Homo sapiens: one gene and its partner. The protein of the gene in region 1 interacts with the protein of each later gene in a pairwise test. Each region holds a gene or a part of one and is shown on either strand. Other genes may lie near its edges.

The links.
Region 2: the proteins of MBNL1 (region 1) and ZNHIT3 interact in a two-hybrid assay, tested with the Homo sapiens proteins (one large-scale study listed by BioGRID and IntAct).

The regions. Positions count from the first base shown.
Region 1 is NC_000003.12:152,425,770-152,429,596, forward strand, and holds part of MBNL1 (muscleblind-like protein 1), read left to right. Parts: intron 1-3,827. UniProt on the Homo sapiens protein: Mediates pre-mRNA alternative splicing regulation. Acts either as activator or repressor of splicing on specific pre-mRNA targets. Inhibits cardiac troponin-T (TNNT2) pre-mRNA exon inclusion but induces insulin receptor (IR) pre-mRNA exon inclusion in muscle.
Region 2 is NC_000017.11:36,492,784-36,496,431, reverse strand, and holds the end of ZNHIT3 (zinc finger HIT domain-containing protein 3), read right to left. Parts: intron 3,620-3,648; coding exon 3,533-3,619; intron 2,507-3,532; coding exon 2,426-2,506; intron 1,210-2,425; coding exon 1,028-1,209; 3' UTR 610-1,027; downstream 1-609. Other genes in the region: MYO19 (unconventional myosin-XIX), read left to right, coding at 26-181.

The DNA of each region.
Region 1 (3,827 bases):
ACCATGTGGAAGACAGTGTGGCAATTCCTGAAGGATCTAGAACTAGAAATAACATTTGACCCAGCAGTCCCATTACTGGGTATATACTCAGTTTTGTAAATCATTCTACTATAAAGACACATGCACACGTATGTTTATTGCAGCACAATTCACAATAGCAATGACTTGGAACCAACCCAAATGTCCATCAATGATAGACTGGATAAAGAAAATGTGGCACATATACACCATGGAATACTATACAGCCATAGGAAAGAATGAGTTCCTGTCCTTTGCAGGGACATGGATGAAGCTGGAAACCATCATTCTCAGCAAACTAACAACAGGAACAGAAAACCAAACATCTCATGTTCTCACTCATAAGTGGGAGTTGAGCAATGAGAACATGTGGGCACGGGGGGGGAACATCACACACTGGGGCCTCCTGGGGGTTGTGGGGCAAGGTGGGGGATAGCATTAGGAGAAATACCTAATGTAGATGATGGGTTGATGAGTGCAGCAAACCACCATGTCCATGTCACATGTATGCCCATGTAACAAACCTGCACGTTCTGCACATGTATCCCAGAATTTAAAGTATAATAAAAATCAAAAATAATCAAAAAAATAAAACTTCTGGATTCTTTTTCCAAATTATTATTTTTACTTTGTCACATACTGTCTGGTGCAAATTTTGTCTGATGAAAAATTGGTACATAATTTAACCAAAAATAGGCTGTATATCATGGCTTGCAACCTGGAGACCTCTGGTAGATTTCTTTAGTGCATCCCAGCCAAGTGTCCTTCAGAAATTCTGTTGTTGCCAGGCTCTCTTCATTGCCCTCAAAGAGCTCTACATAAGCAGTGGTTATAAAGAGCTTTGCATGATATCTGGAGTTTCTCTAGTAATGGTCTCATGTGCCTTTACCTGTGATCCCAAAGTTAACCTTGGCTATCTATAATTTGTGATGGCAGCTATTCTTTGGGTAAACAAATTAGCTATCTCAGGGTCCATAATTTGTGTAGAAATCCTGTGCATTACATGAACTTTGAAATAGCCTAGGAATAGAGAAATTCAGTTTCTGGTTTTAGCTAATGTCTTGAGAGCTTCTTTGCTGCTTCTGTAACCTAGATAGACTTTGCTGTCACATCATGTTCCAAGCATTTGTTGCCATTCAGATGCAGAATGCTTTGAAGTCATCATTTGTCATTCATTCTTCCAGGAACACCTAGAATTCTTAAATAGTTTTTTGGTTCTTTACTTTCCACTTTATCCAGGTAATGGTTGAGATAAGGCACTTTATCCCAGAGTGTTTCTGGTAAAATGTTTCCATGTCAGTTTCTCTGAGTAGTCTTTCATCCATCCTGCTGTTGTTACTGCCTTTTTCCATTAAGGAGCCTGTGAATCCTCAAACAGCCTGAGAGAATGGGCCCTGGATTTTAGGAACTAGGCCATGCCTGGTTGATACCTTTCTACTAGGAAGTCCAGAGTGTTCTTTATTTAAATGTTTGTTATTTCAGTCAAACTGGATTGAAGGATAAAGTGAAACTAAGAATGAAGGAGGTACTCATTGATTTATCCAGTTACAAGTCAGTCTAGGAGCAAAGTTATAACAGTATCTCTTATTTTATTCGTCATTTGCTACCCTTTTTTTAAAGATAGAGGGTCTTGCTTTGTCACCCAGGCTAGAAGGCAGTGGTGCAGTCGTAGCATACTGTAAGTTCACACTCCTGGGCTCAAGTGATTCTCCTGCCTCAGCCTCACAAAGTGCTGGGATCATAGGCCAGACCCACTGTGCCTGGCCCTGCTTTCTTAGAAAAAAAGAACTTTATAATATGAATTTGTTGATAACTCCTGTTAGCTTTTGGCACTGTTTATATTCAAAATAGTTCAGTGAGACTAGTTACAGGGTTATGCCTACCCAGAAACATGCTTTCATATACCTTGATTATGTGTGCTTTTTTAAAAAAAATTTTTTTATATTAAAAACATTTTTAAAATAAAAATTTTAAAAATTTTAAAAAATATTTAAAAATTAAAAAAATTTTTTAAAATATTTTATTTCTTTATATACATACATAAAATCTAGAATAATATGACTTAAAATTTGTGATCTGTGAATTTCATCTGATATTGATTACATATTATTTGTTACATATACTCCCTCTATTTTTTTTTTAAATCTCAAACATTGCAAAACAAACAGTGTTCACATGGTGTTTTAAGATAAATATCAGCCCCTGTGATATTTGCAACATTACAGCATGGTAACTACATTACTGAAACTTAGAAAGCTTAATATAAAAAATTGCAAAACAAAAGGAAAAAATAAACTTTGGACAGGTATATTAGAGATAGTAATTATTGAATTTTGAGGTAAAGAAAGAAACAATCACTTTTATTTCACATTCAAGTATATATTCTAAAGAATATTTAATGTATTTGCTTGTTTCTGTGGCAGAGAAAAGCAGCAAATCCATTAGTATATATGTTAAGTAAATGTTTGTAGAAGATCTGTATAGATGCTAAACGCAGCGTATACATAACATGAACAAGACATAAAGCAAAAGTCTGCCCTCTAGGAGCCTCCAGTCTTGTCAGACTAGAGGAGATATTCAGGTAAACACTGGCAGTGGTATATGCTGATTCGAGTAATTAGGAGTTCGTGGGAACAGAGGGTAAGAAAAACCCCTTTATAGTTAGAGATGTAGATGGATCAAGAGAAACTTACCTAAAGAGTCCTAATTCTTGAAGCACAATTAGGAATTAAACAGATTGGCTAGGCACAGGTAGCATTCAATGTGGAGGATAAACCATGTTTAAAAGAAAAGAGCTATAAGGGAACATGTATCCTTAGAGACCTTACTTACAGTCAGAAAAATGTACCTATATCTGTAGAAAACCACATAGTGTGTGGAACTAGAATCACCTAGGAGCTTTCAAAAAATACTGCCACTTACCAGAGATTCTGACGAGTGAGGAGTGGCCAGGGCATTCACGGTTTAAAAGTCCTCCGGATGATTTTAATGGACACCTGGTTCATTGTGTGAAAACCACTTTATCACAACCACTTGGAATCAGACATACCTGTGGTCACATCCTAGGCCTTTGATTCACTCATTTGTGTCTATAGACACATAATCTTTGTGATCCTTTTTCCTTATCTGCAAAAATGGGGCTAATACCCACTTCAGAAGGCTGCAATTCACTCATTCATTCATTCACTCAAGTACTAATTCAACAGGTATTTATTGAGCGCCTACTGTGTGCCAGGCATTGTTCCAGGCTCTGGAGATTTAGTAGGGAACTAAACAGATCTCTTCTGATCTGTACCCCTCAAAAAACACAAAAGAAAAGAAAATTACCAAGGGAATTTATACTCTACTGTTGTAAGGATTAAATACAATAAATAGCACCGATAAAGCACTCAGCATGATGCTGACACAAAATAAATAAGGAATTACTACTAATAATCATGTTTGCATAGTTAACTGGGGTCATAATATGAAATTAACACTTTGATTTATAATGAAGTCTGATTACCTTAATGGAATCAATGTCTGATTTAAAACAAACAAGTGATTAACCCATAAACAGCACCAGAATTAGTAAGTTTGTACTTTGTTTTTCTCTGATGAGGATGTTCATTGGCAAAAGGCAATTATAAACCAAACTTTCTTATGTCTTTCAGGAACAGAGATACTTACAAATCATTATCACAAGAATATAGTCAGTATCAAATATACCAATTACATTGTTATATGTTATCCTTCAGAGAAAACAGGATGCCACTTGATAACAACATTGCATTAATATCTGTCTTTGAGATTCTGCTGAACCCCCTGCA
Region 2 (3,648 bases), on another chromosome or scaffold:
AGCTGCATCTCTCTCTCCCCTCTAGGGATCGATAAAGTTTCACTGCAGAAAGTCTCCACTGCGGTATGCTGACATCTGCCCTGAACCTTCACCCTACAGCATTACAGGCTTTAATCAGATTCTGCTGGAAAGACACAGGCTGATCCACGTGACCTCTTCTGCCTTCACTGGGCTGGGGTGATCCTTGGTGCCTTTGTTTCCACAAGGCCTTTTCCTGCCCCCTGCCTTGCCAAAGACATTTAATCAGCACACAGCTGCCAGACTATTCCCACAGTGCTCCAAATGCACATGAACAACAGTGACGGCTCCAGCCTTCGACCCAGAGCCCCGTGCCCAGTGCGTCAGTGGGCCTGGGGTTCCAGGCTACATCAAGCACTGATGGTGTCAGGGCTGGTAGTTACCAAATCAGGGTTAAGAAACATCAGGGCCACATTTCACTACCTTCACAGATCAAACTCAGCAGCAGTCATGACTGTCTGTCACTACACTGGGGATCCCAATTCCACATAAGCACTTTTGGAAGAAAACAGCCAAAGTTGGCCTAAAATTGGCGCTGGAATTTGGGCTGGGAAAAATCTTGTGGTTATTTCCTTTAAAAAGGAACAAAACTTTAGTATTTAATTAGTTGATTTATTTAATGTAATTTCAAACAATTAAATTATGAATAATGCAATGTACAGTAGAATCACGTTTTGATTTTATTAACACTGACCAAGTTTAACTCCATATGAAGTGTAAGCTTGATATCGTTTATGATGTCTATCAACTGTACCAAAAGTAAAACATTTAAAAACAATCATCTGAATGTCAAGTTTTCTCTCCATAAAGGACTTGCCACCTTAAGGACCCCAAGTCTGCCTGAAACATGAGCCACATCAATGCCGGTAAAGGCCTGCATGACCTAATCTGCATCCTGGAAACCTCTTTTGCCTGAGCTCCCCAGCCCCAAACTAGCTGGTCTGGGAGAGGGAGCAGGCAGGTTCCAGGAGTCAAGCACACGCTTGAGCAAGCAGCACAATAATCCATCTTAAGACTCCTCATTCTGGGATGGCTCCACAATTCCTAAACAGCAGTCTGCAAACTCCACAAACAAAGGCTCTTGCATGTAAGCTCTCATGAGCTTTGCTTTGTCTTCTCCCTGATCGAGGTTGACCATCAACTGCCTGAGGTGTGGATTGAGCAATAAGCTTCTTAATGTTGCAGATTCCCCTAAAAATTAACAAGAAAAAAAGCCAGTCTGAGTTCAAGTGGAAACACATGGAGATGGCTGAAAAGTGAAGAGCTATTTCAAGTGTAATAAAACTATCAGCAAGGTGTGGTGGCTCATGCCTGTAATACCAGCAACTGGGGAGGTCAAGGTGGGCAGATTGCTTGAGCTCAGGAGTTCAAGACCAGCCTGTGCAACATGGCGAGACCCCACCTCTATAAAATGAAAGGTAAGACCAGCATATCAAACTATTTCCGCATTAAATGCAGTAACAGATACCAGTTCTTGGTATCTTTGTAAATATTGTAACTTCGTGCCACTTCAGCTAAGAAAAAAATGCTTTATCAGCACAATCACAAAGCAAATAGTAGCATTAAGCTGCTGGCATGTTTTCTTTCTTTCTAGCCATAAAAGTTGCCAGTGGTGAAGACGGCTATACGAAATAATCTGAATGATGTCTAAGCATGCCATTTGGCATGCAGCAGCACCAGTAGCAGGGAACCAACAATAATACCTGCATGGTACTTCACAGTCTGTAAAATTTTTCACACCTATTACTAGCTCATCTCCAAACTCAGTCTAACTAATCATTACCATGAGACTAAGTGCAAAACATAACCTTTTAACATGATTCTGTGAAATGGGAAGAATGAAATTAACAGACCCCATGCACATGTAACAGAATGTTGTAAGGACTGAATAAGCAGTGCTACAAAAATGGCAACACCTGTTTCCCCCTAAATCAAATCATGTGATAACCAGTTTGTGTTAAGGGCTGGACTGTGAGCTGAGCACTGGGGATCTGGGAATACAGGTCCCTGCTGTACAAATCGGTATGTGAGAGACAAATTACCATGAAATGTAACAGTGATTTATTACTATTAAGTCCAAGTTGCTATGGGAAACCAAAAAAGTGCCTAATTCTGAAAGAGACACAAAAGGTCAAGAAAAGCTTAGCTGAGTGAAGAAAACTTGAACCAAGGCTTGAAGGAGGAGCAGAATTTTGCCAACCCACAAGACCAGCAGGATTCCAGGCAGAAGGAATGGTGTGGGCAGGCTGGGAGGTGTGAAACCCTGTATGTTTACAGATTATGTGGCTAGATAGTAAGAGCCCTACATGCCATACTTATTCAAGAAATTAAAAACTTTTTAAAAAATCACAATCCTTACAACACAGTAAATGTATCTCAACGATTGACAAGCATAGCACAGACTTACCTAAATTCTTTAAATTCTGCAAAGAAACTCTGTCTTCTTCCTCATCACTATTGAGAAAATCAGCTATAGAGTCATCATCATCTAAGGAATACAAAACAGTCAATGGCTCATGGCTAAAAAGGAGGCCTGGGCACCAGATTTTAACCACTACTTGAACAGGATAAAAATGTGTGCACGCACATGTGATAGTGATAGGGGTATTCAAGCAGGTACAGACAAAAATCCTCTTCTCCGGAGTCTGTGACTATACTAACACTCCTTTTTTAGAAGAGGGAGGCTAAGTGAAAGAATTGGTGATTTTAACAAATGCACTCTAGTGTTCACATCCTTACTGTATATGTGGTCCTGTGGTCTTTAGGCTTAGACCCCGGTTGTCTAATAACTTAATACCCATCCCCACCTCAACATGGCTCCAACCCTGTGATGGGCCAATTAACTGGATGCTCTGTAAAAACCAGCCAAGTAGAATCTCCTGTGCTTTCAGCATGGGCAGAAACTGCTGGCATTGCCTGAACCCAACCTGGAAATTTCTCAAAGGGCAAAAATGGGCCATGCCTTTGGAGTGAATGTTCAATACCTCTTTGGTGGCACCAGAGGGGCTGCTTTCAGAGCCTGGCATGGTGCTTGACACCCAGGAGGTATTAAAGAACGTTTAGATGGCTGGACGGATGGGTTGACAGCCCACTACTGCTGTGAGCTCTGAACCCCCAGCAGCAGCGAGATGATCTAGGACAAAGAAAGCCTCCTGCCTGGGCTGAGTTCAGGTGAACTGACAGTCCCAGCCAGATTCATGGAGGGAGACCAGCAGCTATGGGCTAGAGAAGGCTCCTGCCAGCAGGGCCCACCGCAAACCCCCAAACCACAGCCATGGCCTTTCTCATCTCTGTCTTCTGCCCATTTTTCTTCTCCTGAATACTGCTTTCAGGCTGTTGCCTCAATATCACCCATGATGACATGGCCCCACTCCTGATGCTCAAGGCTAAGGAAGCTGTTCCTTCCCAATGAAGCTATTGTTCTGGATTCCCTGACCAGCCCCACTCTCCCCTTTTCCTTCGACTTATTCTATGTGAAGTCCCTTGTAGATTTGTTTGAAGTCAACCAACCCACCTTTGTTTTCCACAGGCTTTACGGTTTTGGTAGGAAGAGCTGATCTTATTTTTTTCTCAACAGGACGAGTTTCAGGGTTGCACTGTTCTGAAAAAGACACAAATCCCAGGCCCACA